2 separate regions of the Homo sapiens genome follow, and region 2 is linked to region 1. Evidence: fine-mapped expression QTL. A gene starts in region 1. The other region holds a variant in brackets. All regions are shown on one strand. Distances are between the middles of the regions.

Region 1 (16,349 bases):
GCTCCAGTCCCCAGGGCCACCCTCCCCTGACTCCATTTCCTTCCCCAGCTGGACCGTGAGGCCAACCTCACCAGCAGCGTGACGATACTGCCACTGCCTCTGCAGAACGCCACGGTGGAAGCCGGCACCAGATGCCAGGTGGCCGGCTGGGGGAGCCAGCGCAGTGGGGGGCGTCTCTCCCGTTTTCCCAGGTTTGTCAACGTGACTGTGACCCCCGAGGACCAGTGTCGCCCCAACAACGTGTGCACCGGTGTGCTCACCCGCCGCGGTGGCATCTGCAATGTGAGTGCTCCCTGTGGCGGGAGGAGGGGTCCTGAGAGGTACTGAGCTCTCCGTGGCAGGAGAAAGCAAGTGCAGGCTGAGGGCGGCACAGCAGGGGGGCCCCAGGATTGAGCATTTTCACGGTAGGAGAAACAGTATCTTTTTTTTTTTTTTTGAGACAGAGTCTCGCTCTGTCGCCCAGGCTGGAGTGTAGTGGCGTGATCTCGGCGGCTCACTGCAACCTCCGCCTCCTGGGTTCAAGCGATTCTCCTGCCTCAGCCTCCTAAGTAGCTGGGATTACAGGCATGCGCCACCACGCCCGGCTAATTTTGTATTTTTAGTAGAGACAGGGTTTCTCCATGTGGGTCAGGCTGGTCTCGAACTCCTGACCTCATGATCGACCCACCTTGGCCTCCCAAAGTGTTAGGATAACAGGCATGAGCCACCGTGCCTGGCTGAGAAACAGTAGCTATCAAACGCCGGCTGTGAGCCACGTCTGTGCTGGGGGTTGGGGACCCAGCAGGCATGGTAGAGCCGGTCACTGAGGGACTCAGGCGTGTGATTGCCAGGGGAGGGGCACCTGGCCCAGCCTGGAGGTGCCAGGAAGCTCCAGAAAGCAACTGATCCCAAAGTCCACTAGCAGTTAACCAGGGCAGAGAAAGAGAAGAGCCATGCAAAGGCCCTGGGGCTGGATCAGGACTTGTAGGTTCCAGGGGCAGCAAGAGGCCTCTGCAGTTCTGGGGTGGCGTGGGAGCCAGGCCCTGGGACGCCCTGACACAGCTGCTGCCTGCCCAGGGGGACGGGGGCACCCCCCTCGTCTGCGAGGGCCTGGCCCACGGCGTGGCCTCCTTTTCCCTGGGGCCCTGTGGCCGAGGCCCTGACTTCTTCACCCGAGTGGCGCTCTTCCGAGACTGGATCGATGGTGTTCTCAACAACCCGGGACCGGGGCCAGCCTAGGGGGGCCTGTGACCTCCCATGGAGCCCAGCCCCGCCCTCCACACCTCCGGCGCTCCGCACCCACCTCCCACGGCCCCGCCCCTGCCCCCGCTCCGGCCAGAGGGGCCCTGGCTGTAATAAAGAAGCCGATCTCTCCTCTGCTCCTGGTTTCTGTTCATTGGTGGGGGAGGGGGCTGTGGGGACGCGTGAGTGGCACCTTCACCGGCCTTAGGGGCACCCACCGCAGGTGCACTGCCTGTGCAGATGTCAGATGTTCAGAGATTCCCTCAAAGCCCGGGAAGCAGGGGCTGGTGTTATCTGCACCCGACAGCGGGGTGTTGGGGGGAGGCCCAGGTTCAGAGAGGTTGGGTGGCTGCCCAGAGGTCACACAGTGAATGCCGCCCAGCACTTTGGGAGGCCGAGGTGGGCGGATCACCTGAGGTCAGGAGTTCAAGACCAGCCCGGCCAACCTGGTGAAACCCCATCTCTATAAAAATACAAAAATTAGCCGGGCATGATGGCGGGCGCCTGTAATCCCAGTTACTTGGGAGGCTGAGGCAGGAGAATCACCTGAACCCGGGAGGCGGAGGTTGCAGCGAACCGAGATGGCGCCACTGCACTCCAGCCTGGGCGACAGCGAGACTCCAGCTCAAAAAAAAACAAAAACCACGGGAGAAAACGGGGAACATTCTCCTCTTGGATCCAATAGAAACAGTAAAACGTGAATATGAAATAATAAATATAATTGTATATATAAATAATACAGAATAAAATATGAATATGATGGCTGGATGTGGCAGTCACATCTGTAATCTCAGCACTTTGGGAGGCCAAGGTGGGAGCATCGTTTGAGCCCAGGAGTTTGAGACCAGCCTGGGCAACGTAGTGAAACCATGTCTCTACAAAAATAATTTTTAAAATTATTAAAATTACACAGGAGAGGCCGGGCACAGTGGCTCATGCCTGTAATCCCAGCACTTTAGGAGGCCAAGGCGGGCGGATCACGAGGTCAGGAGATCGAGACCATCCTGGCTAACACGGTGAAACCCCGTTTCTACTAAAAATACAAAAAATTAGCCAGGCGTGGTGGCGGGCGCCTGTAGTCCCAGCTACTCGGGAGGCTGAGGCAGGAGAATTGCTTGAACCCGGGAGGTGGAGATTGCAGTGAGCCGAGATCACGCCACTGCACTCCAGCCTGGTGACAGAGCAAGACTCCGTCTCAAAAAAAAAAAAAAAAAGCCGGGTAAGTGGCACCTGTCGTCCCAGCTACTCTGGAGGCTGAGGTGGGAAGATTGCTTGAGTCCAGGAGGTGGAGGTTGCAGTGAGCCGTGATCGCACCACTGCACTCCAGCGTGGTCCACAGAGCAAGACCCAGTCTCTTAAAATGATAATAATAATAATAATAATAATAATAATAATAATAAGAAGAAGAAGAAGAAGAAGAAGAAGAAGAAGAAGAAGAAGGAAGAAGAAGAAGAAGAAGAACCTGTAGTCTCAGCTATTGAGGAGGCTAAAGTGGGAAGATCACTTTAGCCCAAGAGGTTGAGGATGCAGTGAGCTATTTTTATCTCATTTATTTATTTATTTGAGACAGAGTCTCCCTCTGTCACCCAGGCTGGAGTGCAGTGGCGCGATCTCGGCTCACTGCAACCTCTGCGCCCCCAGTTCAAGCAATTCTCCTGCCTCAGCCTCCTGAGTAGCTGGGACTACAGGTGTGAGCCACAATGCCTAGCCAATTTATATATATATATTTTTTAGTAGAGATGGGGTTTCATTATGTCGACCAGGCTGGTCTTGAACTCTTGAATTCAGGTGATCTACCCATCTCAGCCTCCCAAAGTGCTGGGATTACAGGCGTGAGCCACCGCGCCTGACCTTATTTCATTTATTTTTGAGACACGGTCTTTCTCTGATGCCCAGGCTGGAGTGCAGTGGCGTGATCAAGGCTCACTGTAGCCTCAGCCTCCCAGGCTTCAGCAACCGTGCCCGGCCTTAGAATTCACTCTTTTAAAGTGTGTACAGCCGGGCGTGGTGGCCCACACCTATAATCCCAGCACTTTGGGAGGCCGAGGCTGGCAAATCACCTGAGGTCAGGAGTTTGAGACCAGCCTGCCCAACATGGTGAAACCCTGTCTGTACTAAAAATACAAAAAATTAGCCTGGCATGGTGGCATGCACCTGTAATCTCAGCTAGTCGGGAGGCTGAGGCAGGAGAGTGGCATGAACCCGGGAGGCGGAGCTTGCAGTGAGCCAAGATTGAGCCACCGCACTGCAGGCTAGGGGATAGAGTGAGACTCTGTCTCAATAAAATAAAAAATAAAATAAAATAAAATGAAGTGTGCAATTCAATGGTCTTCGGTACACTCACAATGTTGTGTGGTCATGACCTCTGTTGAGTTCCAGAATATTTCATCACCGCCAAAGGAATCCCTGTCCCCATCAGCCGTCACTCCCTGTCCCCTCCCCAGTCCGCGGCACCCACGCGTCCTCTTCCTGTCTCTGTGGATGGGCTTGTCCTGGACATTTCATAGCAATGGGATCACACACTATGTGGTCTTTCGTGTCCGGCGTCTCTCACGGAGCGTGACGTCCTCACGGTGCCTCCGCGCCGTGGTCGGGTCACAGCTGGGTCCGTTTCACGGCTGCGTCCTGTTGCCACGCCTGGAGGCCTCACTGTGCTGCTCGAGGCCCCTGTGGATGGACGTCTGAGCCTCTCCACTTCCGGCCACTGTGACCCTCACTGCTGTGGACACTCATGTGCAGGTTTGTGTTGGAACTGCTGCTTTTCTTTCTTTTGTGGGTATAACGGGTCCTTTTTTTTTTTTTTTTTTGAGACGGAGTCTCGCTCTGTCGCCCAGGCTGGAGTCCAGTGGCGCGATCTCGGCTCACTGCAACCTCCACCTCCCGGGTTCACGCCATTCTCCTGCCTCAGCCTCCCGAGTAGCTGGGACTACAGGCACCCGCCACCGTGCCCGGCTAATTTTTTGTATTTTTAGTAGAGACGGGGTTTCACCGTGTTAGCCAGGATGGTCTCGATCTCCTGACCTCGTGATCCGCCCGCCTCAGCCTCCCAAAGTGCTGGGATGACAGGCGTGAGCCACCGCGCCCGGCCAACGGGTTCTCTTTACAGAGGGGGAAACTAAGCCTAGAGAGGGGTGCCAATGGCTCAGGAGCCCAGCCGGTGGGGGCCCTGCCTGGGTTTGGAGAGGCAAAGCCACTGCCTGATCATTGTTCAGATGGGGAAACTGAGGCCCAAGGCAGGATTGGGGTTCAAGGGCTTCTGGTGCCCCCGGCTCGGGGCCACGTTCGGTCATGAGGGTCCCCCTGCTGGGGCGGGATTCCTGCCAGAGGCGGTTTCTGCCCTCCTCCCCCCAGCCCCTGCTGCTCCCCCTTCCTGGGCCCAAGGGTGCTGTTCTCGGGTTCCCCTGGTAGCGGTCAGCCCGGCTGCAGGGCCCTCAGAGCGGGGCTGCGTGTGACTGTGGGCAGCCCGAGTCCTCTCCGCGCCTCGGATTTCAGGGACATAGAACGGGGTCCCATCCGTGGACCCACCCGCCACCCCGCAGCCCCGTCCAGGCCCCGACGCGTGCAGCCCCCACCCCGCAGCCCCGTCCAGGCCCCGACGCGTGCGTGCAGCCCCCACCCCGCAGCCCCGTCCAGGCCCCGACGCGTGCAGCCTCCTGGCAGAGCCAGCTGTGCTCAGGCTAAAAACAGCTGTTCTGTTTCTTCTCTGTGCCCCTCTACCCGGCCCCACTCACTGGTGTCTTGAGAAGGTTTTTAAATTTTCGGAATTCTCAGAACAGATTGTGAAATGTCTGGGTTTGGCTTAGAAATCCCGTGAGAGGGGGCATCAGGGGACAGGTGGGTGGATGGGCCTGGGGGGTGTGGAAGGCGGCCGGGTGTCAGGGCCCCAAGCACACGGGAAGGTCAACGGTCGGCACAAAACACACACAAAACACAACCACTGCGAGGCTGAGCCTCGCGGGCGAACCAGCATCTTCCCGTCACTCAGGGAGAGAAGGTTTTCCTTTATAAAGAGGAGAGGAAAGGAGGCCGGGCACAGTGGCTCACGCCTGTCATCCCAGCACTTTGGGAGGCCGAGGCGGGTGGATCACCTGAGGTCAGGAGTTCGAGACCAGCCTGGCCAACATGGTGAAACCTCGTCTCTACTAAAAATACAAAAATTAGCTGGGTGTGGTGGTGGGCGCCTGTAATCCCAGCTATTCAGGAGGCTGAGGCAGGAGAATCGCTTGTACCCAGGAGGCGGAGCTTGCAGTGAGCCGAGATCGCGCCACTGCACTCCAGCCTGGGCAACAGAGCAAGACTTCATCTCAAAAAAAAAAAGAAAGAAAGAAAGAAAAAGAAAGTAGTAGAGGAGAGAAAAAAGAGAGAACAAGAAAGATGGAGAGACAGAGACGGACAGAGACACAGAGACAGAGAGAGACGGAAAAAGAGGGACAGAGCCAGAGAGACTGAGAGAGATAGTTTTAAAAAAGGGAGACAGCGATGACACAGAGAGACACAGACACAGACACAGAGATGAAGAGACAGACAGATATAGGGAGACAGAGACAGACTGAGACAGAGAGACAGAGACAGAGGGAGACAGAGACAGAGACAGAGAAGGAGACAGAAAGAGGGCGGGGAGAGAGACAGAGACAGAGACACAGGCCTGAGCCCCGCATGGGTCTCCCCTCGGCCCCAGGCGGCGTCACCTGCGATCCCTGAAGCCGTTACCAGTTGCGCCACCTACGGTTGGTACAGGAAGGGGCCCCCACTACCTCTGCCCCCAGGCCGACCCCTGCAAAGCCCCCAGCGTGTTCCACGGAACCCTCCCTGCTACCCGCTCCCAGCGCTCCTGTCGCCCTGGCCTGTGCTTTTGAGTCCCCCCAGGACGCACAGGGAGCCTGGAGGACCCGGGGCCCGCGGGACGGTGCTGGGACCCTCCGGTCAGGACCGGGCTGCATCAGCCTTGCGTGGAAACAGATCCTGACGGGGAAGCCCACGTACAGTGAGGACGGGGCAGCCCCCTGGGCAGCTCTCGCGTGTGCTAGATCCAGCAGTGTGTGTGCAAGGTCTTTCTTTTCTTTCTTTTCTTTTTTTTTTGGTTGACAGCTTTATTGAGATGTCCTTCACACACACCAAGCAATTCACCCACTTAACAATTCGGTAGTGGCCAGATGGTGGGGGAGGATCGCTGGAGCCCAGGAGTTCCAGACGAGCCTGGGCAGCATAGCAAGACCCCTCTCTATTAAAAAAAAAAAAAGGCAGGGCGCGGTGGCTCACGCCTGTAATCCCAGCACTTTGGGAGGCTGAGGCCGGCGGATCACCTGAGGTCAGGAGTTCGAGACCAGCCTGGCCAACATGGTGAAATCCCGTCTCTACTACAAATACAAAAAACAAATTATTCAGGCGTGGTGGCAGGTGCCTGTAATCCCAGCTACTTAGGAGGCTGACGCAGGAGAATGGCTTGAACCCAGGAAGCCAAGGTCACACCACTGCACTCCAGCCTGGGTGACAAGAACAAAACTCCATGTAAAAACAAATCAAGAAACCTCAAATCCGTCGACCCCCACTGCTGCCCTGCAGAAGGTCCTATTACCGTCCTCACCCGCCTTTACAGGTGGGGAAACTGAGGACTGCAAGCCAAACAGCTTGCCTCAGCATGAGCTGACTCATGGCTGAAACCAACAGCACTTTTGTTGAATGAGAATAACCCTTTTATTTTGAGACGGTGTCTCGCTCTGTTGCCCAGGCTGGAGTGCAGTGACGCGATCTCAGCTCACTGCCCCCTCCACCTCCCGGGTTCAAGTAATTCTCCTCCCTCAGCCTCCCAAGTAGCTGGGATTACAGGCATCTGCCACCACACCCAGCTAATTTTTGTATTTTTAGTAGAGTCGGGGTTTCACCATGTTGCCCAGGCTGGTCTTGAACTCCTGACCTTGTGATCCATCTGCCTCAGCCTCCCAAAGTGCTGGGATTACAGGCAACAGCCACCGCGCCCGGCCACAGCTCTAGTTCTTTTTCTTTTTTTTTTTTTTGAGACGGAGTCTCGCTCTGTCGCCCAGGCTGGAGTGCAGTGGCACAATCTCTGCTCACTGCAAGCTCCGCCTCCCGGGTTCACGCCATTCTCCTGCCTCAGCCTCCCGAGTAGCTGGGACTACAGGCGCCCGCTACCACGCCCGGCTAATTTTTTGTATTTTTAGTAGAAACGGGGTTTCACCGTGTTAGCCAGGATGGTCTCGATCTCCTGACCTCGTGATCCGCCCGCCTCGGCCTCCCAAAGTGCTGGGATTACAGGCGTGAGCCACCGCGCCCGGCCCACAGCTCTAGTTCTTTAATACACATCAGGTCGGTCATGGTGGCTCATGCCTGTGATCCCAGCATTTGGGGAGGTCAAGGCAGGAGCGTCCCTGAAGGCTGGCAGTTCAAGACCAGCCAGGGCAACATAGCAAGACCCCATTTCTACAAAAAATTAAACAGCCAACCAAAAAAAAAAAAAAAAAGAAAGAAAAACTTTAGCTGGACATGGTGGAGCATGCCTGTGGTCCCAGCTACTTGGGGGGTTGAGGCAGGAGAATTGCTTGAGCCCAGGAGGTCGAGGCTGCAGTGAGCCATGATTACACCACTGCACTCCAGCCTGGGTGACACAGCCAGACCCTGTCTCAAAAAATATATATGTATATTTTAAAATATTATATATTATATAATGTAAATAATATACATGCTACATATTTTATGTATACATCTATGTTATATACATTAATATAGCCAGGTGCAGTGGCTCACACCTGTGTTCCCAGCACTTTGGCGGGATTACGGGCGGGTCACCTGAGGTCAGGAGTTCGAGACCAGCCTGGCCAATATAGTGAAACCCCGTCTTTACTAAAAATACAAAAAAAAAAAAAAATTAGCCAGGCGTGGTGGTGGGCGTCTATAATCCCAGCTATACAGGAGGCTGAGGCAGGAGAATTGTTTGAACCCGGGAGGCGGAGATTGCAGTGAGCTGAGATCGCACCACTGCTCTCCAGCCTGGTGACAGAGCGAGACTCTGTCTCAAAAAAAAAAAAAAATCCAAAGGGGAAAACAGTAACTGGACAGTGCAGGAACCGGCAGATGCCCTGACCACGTGGTCAAGGTTATTACCATCAGCACGAGACAGGCCGAAGCCATGGGCTTCGACGTGGGGGGCCTGAGACAGACACACGCCACGCCCGGGACTCCCTCCATTGAGTCCTGAGGCCACCCAGGACCATCCCCACGGAGGGACGCTCTGCAGAGTGACCACCAGCTCTCCTCAATGGTCCCAAGGGCTGAGGGAGGGCAGAGGGACTGCGCCCGCTGGAGGAGACCCTGACATCTGAAGATGGGTGGCTTGTGTACCCAGGACCCAGCAAAGGGTGGCTGGTGATACTCAGGGGGCTGGGGCAGAGGGGGCCATTTGGAATCAACTTTCGCGCCCTGGCTTCGATCACAGCCTGGAGGGTTGAGCAAGAGGACAGAATTTAGGGAAGCTGGGGGAGGGAGGCCGGGGGAGGGAGTTTGGGGAGCGGGGAGGGAGTTTGGACCCTTTGGACTTCTGTAAGCGTGAAATCCTTTCCAAATGAAACGTTAAAAAGCTTTTTTTCTTTTTGGCCTCCAAGTTCATTCAGTGCTTCTCTCCATTTCACTGTAGGTTTAAACCGTTCAGTTATAAATAAATAATTTTATCCTCTGTCCTCGGCTTTCCCCCGTTTCCGGCACTGCAGACATGGGGGCTGGATTTGTCTCTGCGGCGGGGCCATCCTGGGCACTGCAGGGCCCTGCCAGGAGCTCCCTCCAAGTCGTGACAACCACGGATGTCTCCAGGCCTCACACAGGGACCCCTGGGGGCAGAATCACCCCAGGGTTAGAGGATTCCACAGACCCCAAGAGACTCTGAGTCCCATGATCCTCTGCCCTGCTGAGGTCCCAGGAGGCTGCACACATTGAAATCCACACCCTGAGTGGGAGGGAGAGAGGAGGCGAGTCCCGGGAGCTGGGGTCCCCCGGGTTTATGCCGTACGCCCCATCGGGAGTTTATTCTGGTGTCCGGTGTGAGCAGGGGGCAGACTGGATTTTTTATTTTTTATTTTTATTTATTTATGTTTTGAGATGGAGTCTTGCTCTGTTGCCCAGGCTGGAGTGCAGTGGCACGATCTTGGCTCCCTGCAACCTTCGCCTCCCAGGCTCAAGTGATTCTCCTGCCTCAGCCTCCTGAGTAGCTGGGACTACAGGCGCCCGCCAACACGCGCAGCTAATTTTTGTATTTTTAGTAGAGATGGGGTTTCACTATGTTGGCCAGGCTGGTCTTGAACTCCTGACCTCAGGCGATCCACCCGCCTCGGCCTCCCAAAGTGCTGGGATTACAGGTGTGAGGCACCGCACCTGGCCATTTTTTTCCCCAAATAATGAACACTGGTCTCTCCCCTGGGCCCTGTGGACATCGGGGCTGGATCCTTCTCTGGGGCAGGCCCGTCCTGGGCACTGCAGGGTGCTAGGCATCATCCTTGGCCTCCACCCACTCCATGCCAGGAGCTCCCCTTTCGTGACAGCCACAGGTGTCCTCAGACCTCGCCCAGGGTCCCCTGGGGGCAGAATCACCTCTTGATTGAGAATCCTGGCCTTAAAGGGGGAAGAAAACCCCCAGACAAAACTGGCAGGAGGATGTTCGCTGGGGCCTCAGGTGAGGCACTGAGGGCACTCGTGGTGGGGCCCTGCCTTCCCGAGCTCTGCATCCTGTCCCCTGCTACGTCCTGCTGTCTGTCCGTTTCCAGCTCACCCACCCACGGGACACACCTGCCACGGCCGGCTTTGCTGGGGCCACAGGGACCTCGTCAGGGAGGCGTCTCCTTGTGGGTGGCACGTGGGCATGTGTTGCTCTGAGGGCTGTGGCCATGTTGCCCACCTGGCCAGGGACCCCCGACTTGGGTGGGTGACAGCCAGCCTCCCCGCCCCCACAAAGGTTGGGACCTTGAGCCCAAAGCCCCCACCTCCTCCCCGGAGTCCGTTCTGACTCCCAGGCTCCCAAGGCAAAAGGAGGAAGTGGGGACCCAGCCTGGGCATTGGGCAACTCAACGGCCTCTGGCATTGGGCTATAAGAGGAGCTTGACCGTGGGTGCACCCTGGACCCCACCATGGCTCACCGGCCCCCCAGCCCTGCCCTGGCGTCCGTGCTGCTGGCCTTGCTGCTGAGCGGTGAGTGAGCCACGTGCCCATCCATCCAGCCTCCAGGCCCCGGTGGATTGTGGGGAAATATCCACCACGAGGTCCATCCAAAGCCCTTCTGGCACAGCTGGGGAAACTGAGGCAGGGTCAGGGGAGACTCCACTCACTGCTCGGGACCAACGCTTGCAGGGGTGGGGAGGACAAGGGCAAGGGGGAGCCCTGGCCATTTGACTCAGTTGCCTATCTGTAAAACGGGCAAAACCCAGCCCTTCCCTCCTGAGGAGCTGTTTTGGGAATTAGCTAGTAACAGGCGAATTCCTGGACAGCACCCAGCCTTCAGCAAATGCTCAGTGAATATGCATGAATGAATGAATGAGTGAATGAATGAGTGAGTGAGTGAATGAGTGAACAAATGAATGAGTGAATGAATCAATGAGTGAGTGAATGAATGAGTGAATGAGTGAATGAGTGAACGAATGAATGAGTGAATGAATCAATGAGTGAGTGAATGAATGAGTGAATGAGTGAATGAATGAGTGAATGAGTGAATGAGTGAACGAATGAATGAGTGAATGAATGAATGAGTGAGTGAGTGAAAGGGTCGAGGAGTTAGTGATGCTGGAATCAGGGGAAGAAGAGAGCATGGGCCCCCTCAGGTCCCTATCCTGAGGGTGATTTTCTTTTTCTTTTTCTTTTTTTTTTTTTTGAGACGGAGTCTCGCCCTGTCGCCCAGGCTGGAGTGCAGTGGCGCGATCTCGGCTCACTGCAAGCTCAGCCTCCCGGGTTCACGCCTTTCTCCTGCCTCAGCCTCCCGAGTAGCTGGGACTACAGGCGCCCACCACCATGCCTGGATAATTTTTTGTAATTTTTGTAGAGACGGGGTTTCAAGGTGTTAGCCAGGATGGTCTCGATCTCCTGACTTCGTGATCCGCCTGCCTCAGCCTCCCAAAGTGCTGGGATTACAGGCGTGAGCCACCGCGCCTGGCCCTTTTTTTTTCTTTTTTGAAACGGAATCTTGCTCTGTCGCCCAGGCTGGAGTGCAGTGGTGCAATCTCAGTTTACTGCAGCCTCAGCCTCCTGGGGTCAAATGATTCTCCTGCCTCCGCCTCTTGAGTAGCTGGGATTACAAGCACACACCACCACACCTGGCTAGTTTTTGTATTTTTAGTAGAGATGGGGTTTCACCACGTTGGTCAGGCTGGTCTCGAACTCCTGACCTGAGGGGGATTTTCAATGCCTCAGTTTGTTCATCTGCAAAATGGGTCTCTTTGTTGGCTGATTTTTTTTTTTTTTTTTGCTTCTTTTTTTTTATTTTGTTTTGTTTTGTTTTTTTGAGATGGGGTCTCACTCAGGCATGAGCCACTGCGCCCAGGATTTTTTTTTTTTTTTTTTTTTTTTGAGACAGAATCTCACTCTGTTGCCCAGGCTGGAGTGCAGTGGTGTGATCTCGGCTCACTGCAACCTGTGCCTCCTGGGTTCAAGCGATTCTCCTGCCTCAGCCTCCCAGGCAGCTGAGATTACAGGTGCGAACCACCACACCTGGCTAATTTTTTTTTTTTTTTTTTTTGAGACGGAGTGTCATTCTGTTGCCAGGCTGGAGTGCAGTGGGGCGATCTTGGCTCACCACAACCTCCGCTTCCTGGGTTCAAGCGATTCTCCTGCGTCAACCTCCGGAGTAGCTGGGACTACAGGCACGTGCCACCACGCCCAGCTAATGTTTGTATTTTTAGTAGAGACAGGGTTTCACCATGTTGGCCAGGATGGTCTCCATCTCTTGACCTCAGGTGATCCACCCACCTCGGCCTCCCAAAGTATTGGGATTACAGGCGTGGGCCAACCGCACCCGACCAATTTTTCTGCTTCTTTAAAAACATTTTTTTAAATTTTGTTTTAGAGACAGGGTCTTGCTCTGTTGCCCAGGCTGGAGTGCAGTGGTGTGATCTCAGTTCACTGCAGCCTTGACCTCCTGGGCTCAAGCGATCCTCCCTCCTCAGCCTCCCAAGTAGCTGGGACGACAGGTGCACACCACCATGCCTGGCTAATTTTAAAATTTTTTGTAGAGATGGGGTCCTCACAATTTTGCCCAGGCTGGTCTTGAACTCCTGAGCTCAAGGGAGCCTCCTGCCTCGGCCTCCCAAAGTGTTGGGATTACAGGCGTGAGCCACTGCACCCAGCCACCTGGTCTGCGTCTTAAAAGCCTTCCTGACTCTCAGGACTGAAAGCTGCCACCAGGGCGCCTTTGGAAATCGTCGTAATTATAACCCCCCCGGCCTGGGCGCTGAGTCCTTCCCACCAGCCAGCAGGCACTGACCGGGTTGCAGATCGGGAGACGGAGGCTCGGAGAGGCCCAGGGGCTGCTCTGCCATCCCCCCTTTCCCTGCAGCCTGGGGGCTCCCTGACGCCTGGACTCCCCCCCTGCAGGTGCTGCCCGAGCTGCGGAGATCGTGGGCGGGCACGAGGCGCAGCCACACTCCCGGCCCTACATGGCCTCCCTGCAGATGCGGGGGAACCCGGGCAGCCACTTCTGCGGAGGCACCTTGATCCACCCCAGCTTCGTGCTGACGGCCGCGCACTGCCTGCGGGACATGTGAGCGGCCGCCTCCACACCCCTGTCCGCCCGCCCCGCCCTCTTCCTCCAGCCCTGGCCCGGCCACTGTCCCTCTGCCCGGGGAGGACCCAGCTAAGCCCCGTCTGCAGACCCCAGGCCCCGCGCGCGTGGGCAGTTCTGGGGGGAGGCCCGGGGCAGGGTCGCCGAGGGAGGGGTCTGGGGCTGCACCGCGGCCTCGGGAAGGGCCGGCTGTGGGCGGCGGCGAGTGTCCAGGGCGCCGAGGAGTGACCACCCCACCCCCGCAGACCCCAGCGCCTGGTGAACGTGGTGCTCGGAGCCCACAACGTGCGGACGCAGGAGCCCACCCAGCAGCACTTCTCGGTGGCTCAGGTGTTTCTGAACAACTACGACGCGGAGAACAAACTGAACGACGTTCTCCTCATCCAGGTGGGCGGGCAGGGCCGCGAGGGCTCGGAGGGGCACGGCCAGAGGGCTCCGGGACCCCCATTCCTGCAGCCAGCATTCATTGAGCACCCACTGTATACCGGGCCACGACCGAGGCCGCTGCAGCCTGGGTCCAGTGGCACTGGCCGGGGGAGACCGCTCCTTGGACACCAGGCCACTCCTCCTCCCCGCCTCTCCCCCGCCCGCGCCTCTCCCCCGCCCGCGCCTCTCCCCTGCGCGCCTCTCCCCCGCCCGCGCCTCTCCCCCGCCCGCGCCTCTCCCCCGCCCGCGCCTCTCCCTTGCCCGCCCCTCTCCCCTGCCCGCGCCTCTCCCCTGCATGCCTCTCCCTTGCCCGCCCCTCTCCCCTGCCCGCGCCTCTCCCCTGCGCGCCTCTCCCCTGCCCGCGCCTCTCCCCCGGCCGCTCCTCTCCCCCGCCCGCGCCTCTCCCCCGCCCGCGCCTCTCCCCTGCGCGCCTCTCCCCTGCCTGCCCCTCTCCCCTGCCTGCGCCTCCGCCCGGTGTGCTGTTCCCCCAGAAAGCCAGGTGCCCTCGCCTCCTCCGGCGCCTCCCCTGACCTCACTGGAAGTGGCGAGGACAGCCACAGCCCTCCCCGATTCACTGTTCTCCACTGAACCGCGTGCTCCTCTCATTCATGGGGCCCTCCTAGCCTCCTCCCACCCAGAAAGATCAGCTCCCCAGGGCAGAGGATTTTTGTCTGTGTTGTTCGTTATTGGACTCATGTGGCTTAGAACGGGACTGGGCATACAGGTGGTGCTCAGTAAGTGCTTGGGGCTGGGCACTGTGGCTCACGCCTGTACTCCCAGTACTTTGGGAGGCTGGGATGGGAGGATCACTTGAGGCCAGGAGTTTGGGAGCAGCCTGACCAACCTAGTGAGACCCCATCTCTATAAAAGACATTTTTTTTTTTTTTTTTTTTAGACAGAGTCTCACTCAGTCATCCAGGCTGGAGTGCAGTGGTGCAATCTCGGCTCACTGCCACCTCTGCCTTCCAGGTTCAAGTAATTCTCCTGCCTCAGCCTCCTGAGTAGCTGGGATTACAGGCATGCACCAACACGCTTGGCTAATTTTTGTATTTTTAGTAGAGACGGTGTTTTGCCACGTTGGCCAGGCTGGTCTCGAACTCCTGACCTCAAGTGATCTGCTCTCCTCAGCCTCCCAAAGTGCTGGGATTATAGGAGAGAGCCACCGCGTCCAGCCTACAAAAGAAAAATTTAAAAATCAACCGGGCATGGTAGCACACGCCAAGCCACTCATGAGCTGAGATGGGAGGATCACTTGAGCCCAGGAGGTTGAGGCTGCAGTGAGCTGTGATCATGCCACCACACTCCAGCCTCGGCGACAGAGCAAGACCCCATCTCAAAAAAAAAGTGCTTTGAAGATGAATGAATGGGCCAGGGGCGGTGGCTGTAATCCCAGCACTTTGGGAGGCCGAGGCGGGCGGATCGCCTGAGGTCAGGAGTTTGAGACCAGCCTGATCGATATGGCAAACCCCGTGTCTACTAAAAATACAAAAATTAGCTGGGCGTGACGGCAGGTGTCTGTAGTCCCAGCTACTTGGGAGGCTGAGGCAGCAGAATTGCTTGAACCCAGGAGGCAGAGGTTGCAGTGAGCCGAGATTGTGCCACTGCACTCTAGCCTGGGCAACAAGAGCGAAACTCCATCTCAAAAAAAAAAAAAAGAAAAGAAAGAAAGAAAGAAAACATGAATGAATGGCCGGGCACTATGGCTCACACTTGTAATCCCAGCACTTTCGGAGGCTGAGGAAGGCAGATCACTTGAGGTTGGGAGTTTGAGACCAGGCTGGCCACCTCACCCAATGGGATGGCTCCGGGAGGTTCCAGTGAGCCGAGATCACGCCACTGCATTCCAGCCTGGGTGGCAGAGCAAGACTCCATCTCAAAAGAAAGAAAGAAGGAAAGAAAATGAATGAATACAATAGTGACAAATGGGACAAAGGGGGTCGTGGGGCCCAGGCGGAGGGAGCGGCATCCGCGGCGTTTTGAGGTGGTGGGTGTGGTGGGTGTGGTGGGAGGGCGGCCCGGGCGGCCACCGTGACCTGGAAGCAGCGTCTCACCGCCGCCTGCCTTCTGCCCCAGCTGAGCAGCCCAGCCAACCTCAGTGCCTCCGTCGCCACAGTCCAGCTGCCACAGCAGGACCAGCCAGTGCCCCACGGCACCCAGTGCCTGGCCATGGGCTGGGGCCGCGTGGGTGCCCACGACCCCCCAGCCCAGGTCCTGCAGGAGCTCAATGTCACCGTGGTCACCTTCTTCTGCCGGCCACATAACATTTGCACTTTCGTCCCTCGCCGCAAGGCCGGCATCTGCTTCGTAAGTAACCGTGCCCCCACCCCGGGCACCGGGCTGCCATGAGGGGAGGAGGGCGGCGGCCAGGGTTCCACGCCACCTCTTAGCTGTGTGGCTTCATGCTGTGCCTCAGTCTCCCCACCTGGAAGGTGGGCACACCCAACACCCAACGGGCAGGCTCAGCGGGGTGGGGGCGCTCACATTGCACCTGGCTGCTTGGGTGGGTCTGGGGGTTCCCTGCCCCCCACTCCCCTCTAGGACCACAGGAAGGTGTGGGAGACCCATCCGCCCTCACCGGCGGCCCCTTCCAGAATCCAGGACTCCAGGTATCCAGCGGGAGGCCCATAAATGCCCAGTTCCTACGAAAGACCTCAGCCCCTCCCTGCTCACACTTTTTGTTTGTTTTTGAGACGGAGTGTCGCTCTGTTGTCCAGGCTGGAGTGCAGTGGTGAGATCTCAGCTCACTGCAACCTCCACCTCCCAGGTTCAAGGTATTCTCCTGCCTCAGCCTCCTGAGTAACTAGGTGCACAGGTACCTGCCACCGTGCCTGGCTAATTTTTTTGGTATTTTTAGTAGAGATGAGGTTTCTCCATGTTGACCAGGCTGGTCTTGAACTCCTGGCATCAAGTGATGCCTGGCTGGTGCTCACACATT
Region 2 (8,000 bases), 790 kb after region 1:
TGCCCTTCCTGAGCCTCAGTTTCCTCTGTTTCAGGCGTTGAGGGGCTGATGCCCTGGGGTGCTGGGGTCAGAGGCATTTGTCTGTCCCAGGGGACAGGCCTGGGGGCCCTGGCGGGGAGCCCCGGGGCCTGTGCACACCGCATCAGGTTCACCGCACAGGCTCCCCCAAAGTGCCCAGCATTCAGCCTTCAGGCCAGGGTTCATTCGCGAATGAGCACGTGACCTGCACCCCACCAATGAGCACTTCCCTGGGGCGCTCAGTGACAAAGGACAGGTGAGGCCTCGGGGCTACGGAGGGGGTCAGCTGGCCAGGGCGAGCCCCCAGCATGGAAGGCCTGGGCTACGGAGGGGAACAGCTGGCCAAGGCGAGCCCCCAGCATGGAGGGCCTGGGCTACGGAGGAGGACAGCCTGCCGGGGCGAGCCCCCAGTGTGGAGGGCCTGGGGCTGATGCGGTGACACCTGGATCCAGCCTTGCCTGAAGCAGGCACCCCGATTACTCAGGACCTGAGCCACTTAAATCCCCTTCTGGCTGACACTGGGCACGGAATGTGACTGGGGCTGCTGTGAGGGGCTGGGACGCGCGATCGAGTAATGTACATTATTCTCAAAGCAGGAAAAAAATTTCCCGATTTTTGAATTTTAAAAGTTCAACGATTTCCCAACTCCTGGAACAAATGCTGCTGTTTTTTGCCTCCCGTTTCCTCATCTTGGTGACCCGGGGGGACATGGGGAAGATGACAGCCACGACCCACCCCACAGGCCACACCCGGCCACAGCAGTCACTCGCCCGGCTCCTCGGGTGAGAAAACTGAGGCCATAGGAGACTGAGGTTATGGCAAAAGCCCCCCGTGCCTCCCCGGGACCCCCGCCTGCCCTCTCCAAGCTGCCTGGCTATGGCCTGGGCCCCACCCGTGGGGGTGGCAGGTGGGACATGGCTGGGCTCTGGGCATTGCTGGCCGGGCCGTGGGAACTGCCCACGTCAGCCCTGCCCACCCTGGGGCCATCGGGGGTATGAGGAAGAGGCTGGGAGGAAGGAACAGCCAGTGAGGAACCAGGCTCCCAGGTGCAGGGGCCACCCCCGGCAGGGGGGCGGGGCCAGGCCTCACCTACCCCGTAAGGGGAACGGGCAGAAATCGCCCGTGGCACGTGGTGGGCCCTCAGACACACCCGCCAGACCTTCACGCTATTCGCTTCCTACTCAGGACACCAACTGACTCTACTGTACTCCAAGTTCGAGGCCGGGCAAAGCGAGACAGGACCGTCCCTGCCCCGCTGTGGGGCCCAAACAGGCGCTGCCCCTCAGGGTCCAGGGAAAAGGCTGGGTCGGCCAAAGTCCTCCGGGCCTCAGTTTCCCCGCAAGCCAACAATGCCGAGGGGTACACGGTGAGCACCTGGGCCCCGCAGCAGGTCCAGTGCCCCACAGCTCCCGGCTTCTAAGCAGCGCACACCCCCACTGCACCACGAAAAGCCAGCAGAAACACTGCCTCAAACCGTCGGGTTCCAGAGAAGGGAAGGATCCCGCATCCCAGGATGACTGAGGGATGAAACCACAAATTCCACAGCTGAGGCACTGGGGCAGGAGGCTGACCACGACAGCGGGACCCCTGAGGCCCTTACCAGCCCCCCAAGCAGCGGGACCCCCCCAAGACCCCTACCTGAGCCCCCGAACCCTGGGGCACAGGACTTGACACTCCCGCAGGAGGCGGAGCATGTGAAGCTCGGGGCATTTCCTGTGTCACCCGCAGGAGGGACCGCACACGGGACACTGTCCCAGTCGCAGCCCCAGGTGCCTGGAGGAGGGCGTCCCAGTCAGCCCCACCCAGCCGCAGACCCCCGGCCAGGGTGCCCTTCCCAAGCGTCGGTTCGTTCCCCTGCAGCACGGGTGAGCCTGCAGCGGGGCTGGAATATACCCAAGACCAGGCACCAACCCCCACCTGGCATTGGGCAGGGCCTGCAGAGCTGGGTCAGTCCTCACCGCCTCCCTCCAAGAAGGTTCTGGGAGGGTCCCTTTCCCACAGTGGGGAAACTGAGGCTCAGAAGAGGATGGCGCTTGCCCAGGTTCCGTGGTGGGGTGGGACCAGACACCAGGCCTGAGTCTTCATTCTTTTTTTTTTTTTAAGATGGAATCTCGCTCCATCACCCAGGCTGGAGGGCAATGGCGTGATCTCGGCTCACTGCAGCCTCCACCTCCTGGGTTCAAGCAATTCTCCTGCCTCAGCCTCCTGAGTAGTTGGCACTATAAGCATCCAACACCATGACCGGCTAATTTTTGTGTTTTTGGTAGAAGCGGGGTTTCACCATGTTGGCCAGGCTGGTCTCAAACTCCTGACCTCAGGTGATCCACCCACCTCGCTCTCCCAAAGTGCTGGTATTACAGGCGTGAGCCACCGAGCCCAACCTGAGTCACGATTCTCTCGGTTAACAGGAGGGCCCCCCAGGGAAAGAGGGCGGGCGGGCGGTCTGCGGAAGGGCATGGGCTCTGACCACCGCACACTCTGGCCGCCCTCCCGAGTCTCCAGAACTCCTACGCCTCCTTCCCAGCGGGCACAGGCCAGCCCGGCTGACCCCTCCCCGGGAAGCAGGAGGAGCCCTGCAGAAATCCCAGGGAGGAAGTGGGGTCTGGAACGGCCTCCCTGCCTCTACGCTCAGGCGGGGAAGCCTAGTTGCAGAGTGCCGTGCCAGGGAGTCCGGGCCACGTCCCCTGCACCTCCCCGCAGCTGCTCCCAGGACGGGCAGAGGCTTCGGCTGTCCACACCCTCTGGGTGAACGCTGGGGACTTGCCTGGCGCTGTGCGTGCACTGACCATGCCAAGGCCCACGTCTGCACATCTGTGCACAGCAGAGGGACCGCACCAGGCCAGGCACTCACCTCCGAGTCCCGGTCCCAGGAATGTGGATGAAGAGAGGCTGCTGTGCGACTCAGTGAAGTGGGTGCCCTCGCTGAAGGTCTAGGGGAGATGGGGTGGGGATGAGAGGTGCTGGGGCTTCACAGGCCCCCCCTCCACCCCGCATTACAGCTGGAGAGGCAGGACTCAAACCCATGTCCCCCAGTCCAAACCCCTGGAAGGCTGGCCCCTTCTCTCAGCCTCAGTTTCCCCACACCCCTCGCCCCCAACTCTGGGGACAGGAAACTCAGGGTCTCAGGCCTCACGGGGACTCCTACCCGGCTGGGGTCAAAGGAGGAGCTGCTCTGGTCGCCGCTGCCCCAGGAGCCTGAGCTGGGCCGGTCCTCAAGACCTGCAGGCAGGACAGAGAGAGTTATGGGTCACCCTCACGCCTGCCCAGCTCTAAAAGCTTCGGTTCATCATCTCAGGGGCAAACCTCAGTGGACCCGGGGGGCTTGTGGAACCCTTCCTAACCCAGCCTCACCCAGCCCGACTCATGAGGACACCAGTCAGCAGCTAACACCCAGACACCCTGGGACTCGGAGCACTTACAGGTCCATAAACTTAAATTAACTCTTCCGTCGGCTCTCTGCTGGCCAACTCCTACCCACCCACTAAAGCCCCAGCTTTCATACCCTCCTTGGGCAAAGACCTCACTCTCACGCCGAGCCTCCTCCCCATCAGCCCCAAGTCCCTCCCTCTGGCCCAGCCCTGACTATGTGGACTGGGGTCTCTGTGTCAGATGCAGACTCTTCTGACCCTGTGAGAAAGGCTCATGACAGCATGAGGGTGTGGAAGCTAACCCATGAGCTCTGGGGAGGCCCAGGGTCTCCCTGTCCCCACCTGCCAGTGTGGGAAGTGGGGCCGCCCTTTGCTGAAGCAGCAGCAGAGGCTCACCCATCGGGCAGGAGGCTGGCAGCCCGTGAGGGTGGAGCCGAATCTCATCACCCAGGAACAAGCCCAGTGTGGAGACCAGAAGCCTGCGTGGGGCAGGAGTTCCCGGCGCAGCAAGGGACGGGACGAGGACCTTGGTCCCGGGGCGGGGCGGGCGGGGCCCTTATCTCTCAGAACACTCACAGGCAACGCCCAGGACTCCAGAATCTTCTGCCCTGGGCAGGGAGGGCCTGCTTGGATCCTTCCCCCTTCCATC[G/A]GGGGCCACAGAGCACACCCGTGGAGAAGCAGGAGCGGGCCCTGGGCCTCCTCAGCTTGGCCACGGAGTTGCTGCCCTGCCTTGGTTTCCCTCTCTATAAATGATTTACAAACAGGCCCTACTTTTGCAGGGCTGGGGGTGTCCATGTCCAACTCCCAAGTCCAGAGGCTTCCCGAGAGCCAGGCCTGGGGGACCCAGCCCAGTGCTGATGTCTGTGACCGGCACCACCTCAGGCTGTTCTGCAGGCTCCCCCGCCCCGCCCCCTGCCCTCCCTGCTCATCCACACCAGAAACTTCTTTCAAATCGCATCCTTCTATTTCGGTGCCTTTGTGTTAATCATTCCCCCCGGGGAGTATTGGTGTTTAATTGCTGTCTGATTTGCATAATTATGCATATTAATCTCCAAGTCTAATGAATATTCATGCGCCTCATTTAGATTTTGTTTTCTAATCAAAAATTTCCAATGTGATTATGAGTGGGGGGCTGGGATGCTGCCTTGGCTGGGTTGGGGGCCAGGCAGGGGGCTCCTGTGGTCTCCAGGAATCCACACGGCATTCGCTGCCAGGTCTGGGCCATCTGCACCCCAAGATCCTGGTCCTGCACGTGGGCCCTGGTGAACAGGGCAGCTGCTGAGGCCAGGGTGGGCTGGCTGTGTAGGGGTGGGCACAGCGCCGGCACCCTCTGGGTCTCAGTTTGCCTCTATACCACCTGCATGTTGTCTGGTCCCCTCCGGCCATAGCCAGTACCCCAGGAGGTGCAGAGACCCCCAACTGAGCAAACGGGAGGCTCCTGGCACCCCAGCCCTCATCCCCTGGAAGGCCTGGTGTGGTGGGGGACCTCCTGGGGCCCCATGCCCAGGGATCGCCCCCGAAGTTCACTCCAACAGGCCTGTGCCAGAGGCACTGCGGCCTCAATCTGCCCTTTGGGGGAACCCTCCCTCACCCAGCCTTGGCCTCCTCCTAGAAATGACAAAAATAAGGACAGCCCCCACATTAATACAGTTATTAAAATCCCCCCCACCGATTAATGATGCATTTTAATAACCCACCATGAATATTCATAATGCATCCATTGCTCCTGTTCTAATTAAAATGTACTAATAGAATAAGACACTGCTGTCAGAGTGTGGTTTTCTGTGATTTCTTTGGTGAAGCACCGCAGAGTTTTACCCGGGAAGGGCACCTTCCTGCCCTGGGCCAGCCTGGCTGCCTCGGGAGAGGCCTGCGAGTGGACGGCGCAGGGGCGCTGGGGAGAGGGCCCCAGGAGCGGCCCACCCCTTGGGCTTCAGTTCCAATTCCAGTCACGGGGTGTGGAAGCCGCCCACCTGCCTGGGCTGCCGTGAGGATAACAATGAAAGATGCTGCTTCAGAGAGGCCATCCGTAGCCAAGGAATGCTCCAGGCTGGTGGTTTCCCAGTCCCGGTCCCTGTTGGGTCCCCTCCTGAGAGGGACCGGGGACTGGTCTTTGCCTGGTGGCTCGTTGGCAAATGGGAGAGGGAGGCTTCAAAAGGCGCTTAGTAAATACCGGGTAGGACTGAGATTGGTCTGCAGCAGGGATCTGCAAACAGTACACAAGGACCAAGTCTGGCCCCTAAGCTGCTTTTTAAATAAAGTTTTATTGGCACACACTATGCCCGTTTGTCCATGTACTATCAACGGCTGCTTTTGCTGCAACAGTAGAGTTGAATCAATTCCAATAGAGACCATCTGTCCTGCACAGCCAACAATATTCACTCCTTGGTCCTTTCCGGAGAAGGCTGGCTGACCTTGATACAGAAAAAGACTGTCCAAGTGCCTTCAGCTGCCTCTGCACAAGAAACCCAATCGACAGACTTCAGTACCAGGAGTGGGGTTACCATGCCGGGCAGGCAAAACTATTGGTGGACACGGGCCCTGAACACAGCCCTGTGTACCGCCCCTGCCAAACCCTCAGGCACACCACCAGGTGGTCTGGCTTCAGATGGGCCTGGGGACTTCATCCTATAGCCCCAGCTCTGCAATGTGCCCCCACTCAGGTGCTCAGGCTAAAGTCCTGGGAGTCCTCCTCACCTTCCCTCCTCCCAAAGAACAGCAGCTTGCCCCATAGCTACAGCAGCGGGTTAAGCCCAGTCCCTGCAGCAGCTTCCTTCCAAGTCTGCTGACATCCTCAGGCAGCCGGATGGAGCCTTTAGAAGCAAAACTTGGCTCTTCTCCCTCCCTCTACCCTCTCTCATGGCTCCCCACCGTCCTCAGGATAAAGACCAAACTCTTTCCTGATCTCACCACTCTCCTCTTCCCCAACACAGGAGGTGACCCCCACCCACACCCCCTGCCTGAGCCCCTTCCCAGCCTGGGACCCCTCTTTGTCTGCAGCACTGCCTGGAACACAGCTGACGCCCCCAAAACACCCACCCTCAACGTCTTCATTTTACTCATAAATAACTGTGCTTCCAAGAACATTTTCCTGGAGGATCAAAATATTCTCCACCTCTGCTGTCCAATACGGGGACCACACTACCAACTGCTGGAAACGTGGCCAGCATTTTTTCAAGCACATTAAAAATTACATTTAAAAATGTGTATATGGCTAATGCCTGCTGTACTGAACAACCCAGTCCCCAAAAGCAAATGAAATAACAGCCACCACCAAATACCACGGTCACGTCTAAAAACCAATTAACACCTCGACAGCTCCTCACGCAGGTTCCGTTTACTCGGGAGTAGGAGCGGGCCACCCGATACAGGGTCACTATGACCCCCCAAGCCCGTGCCTCGCCCCGTCTCTTCTTCCTCCTTATAATTAAAATCGTGAAGGACCCCGATGGCAGCCTGTCCCACCGCCCTGCCTGGGTCTGGCCCCTGCAGCTTGTGATGCTTCTCAGACCCATTCCCAGCCCCTCTGGGGGTCATGACGGGTGAGATCAGACAGAGGTTTGAATCCGGGGGTGGCCTTTCCTTGGGTGGAGCAGTATTTTAAAAAATTTTTTTTTTCTTTTGCTTTGAGACAGGGTCTTGTTGCCCAGGCTGGAGTGCAGTGGTGCGATCTTGGCTCACTGCAACCTCCGCCTCCTGGGTTCAAGTGATTTTCCCGCCTCAGCCTCCCACGTAGCTGGGACTACAGGAGCCTGCCACCACGCACAGCTAATTTTTGTATTTTTAGTAGAGACGGGGTTTCATACATGTTGGCCAGGCTGGTCTTGAATCCCAGACCTCAAGTGATCCGTCTGCCTCAGACTCCCAAAGTGCTGGGATTACAGGCATGAGCCACAACGCCTGGTGAATTTAAAAAAATTTTTTTGTAGAGATGGGGTCTCACTACATTGCCCAGGCTGGTCTCAAACTCCTGGACTCAGGCGCTCCTCCCACCTTGTATTTCCCAAAGCCCTGGGGTCACAGGCGTGCACAGCCTCCATTTTATCTAAATTCAAGCTATGGGAGAAGATGAAAGACCAGGATGCCCTCGGCCCAGCTCGCGCACTGCAGCCGCCCTGGGTTTATCTTCCTGTCGTGTCTTCTTGGTCAGGGCCCGCAGGCTGTGTAGCACATGCTCCCAGCTTCTGAGGAGGATCCCGAGTGGGGGAGAAAATGCTTCTGGGGCACCACAGAGCCCTTCCTTGTTGGGGGGCTGACGAGATCCCGCAAAGCCTCCCACTTCGATCTGCCTCTAATGTCTGGCGATGGGGGGTGGGACAGCAGGGCCCTGTGGCCCGCCCGCGAGCAGACAAACCTGAGGCTGAAGAGAATGTGAGTGGAGACCACACACCACCCTAAGAGTGGGGGTCCCCACAGCACCTAAAGTGGCAGGACGTGCCCTCGGGTAGAGGCACAGTGAGGCTGTGCGGGCAACACAGGCAACCTCCTCCGCCAGAACCGGGGACGCCTCGCAACCTCCTCCACCAGCACGGGGGACAACCTCCTCCGCCAGAACCGGGGACAACTGGCAACCTCCTCCACCAGAAGCGGGGACAACCTCCTCCACCAGAACCA

What was found.
Region 2: its variant is fine-mapped to the expression of PRTN3 in liver (GTEx, PIP 0.97).

Annotation. Positions count from the first base shown.
Region 1 is chr19:830,660-847,008 of GRCh38, forward strand. PRTN3 (proteinase 3) reads left to right here and starts at 10,340. Exons shown (of 5, transcript NM_002777.4): 1 at 10,340-10,410; 2 at 12,802-12,967; 3 at 13,234-13,375; 4 at 15,488-15,718. The coding sequence starts at 10,350. It overlaps AZU1 (azurocidin 1), which reads left to right. Exons shown (of 5, transcript NM_001700.5): 4 at 49-282; 5 at 1,057-1,359. The coding sequence ends at 1,218.
Region 2 is chr19:1,629,169-1,637,168 of GRCh38, forward strand. It overlaps TCF3 (transcription factor 3), which reads right to left. Exons shown (of 19, transcript NM_003200.5): 4 at 3,164-3,237; 5 at 2,870-2,948. Among named protein-coding and RNA genes, the nearest start is that of TCF3, 19 kb to the right of the region's middle. The variant G/A (reference allele first, on the strand shown) is at 4,036.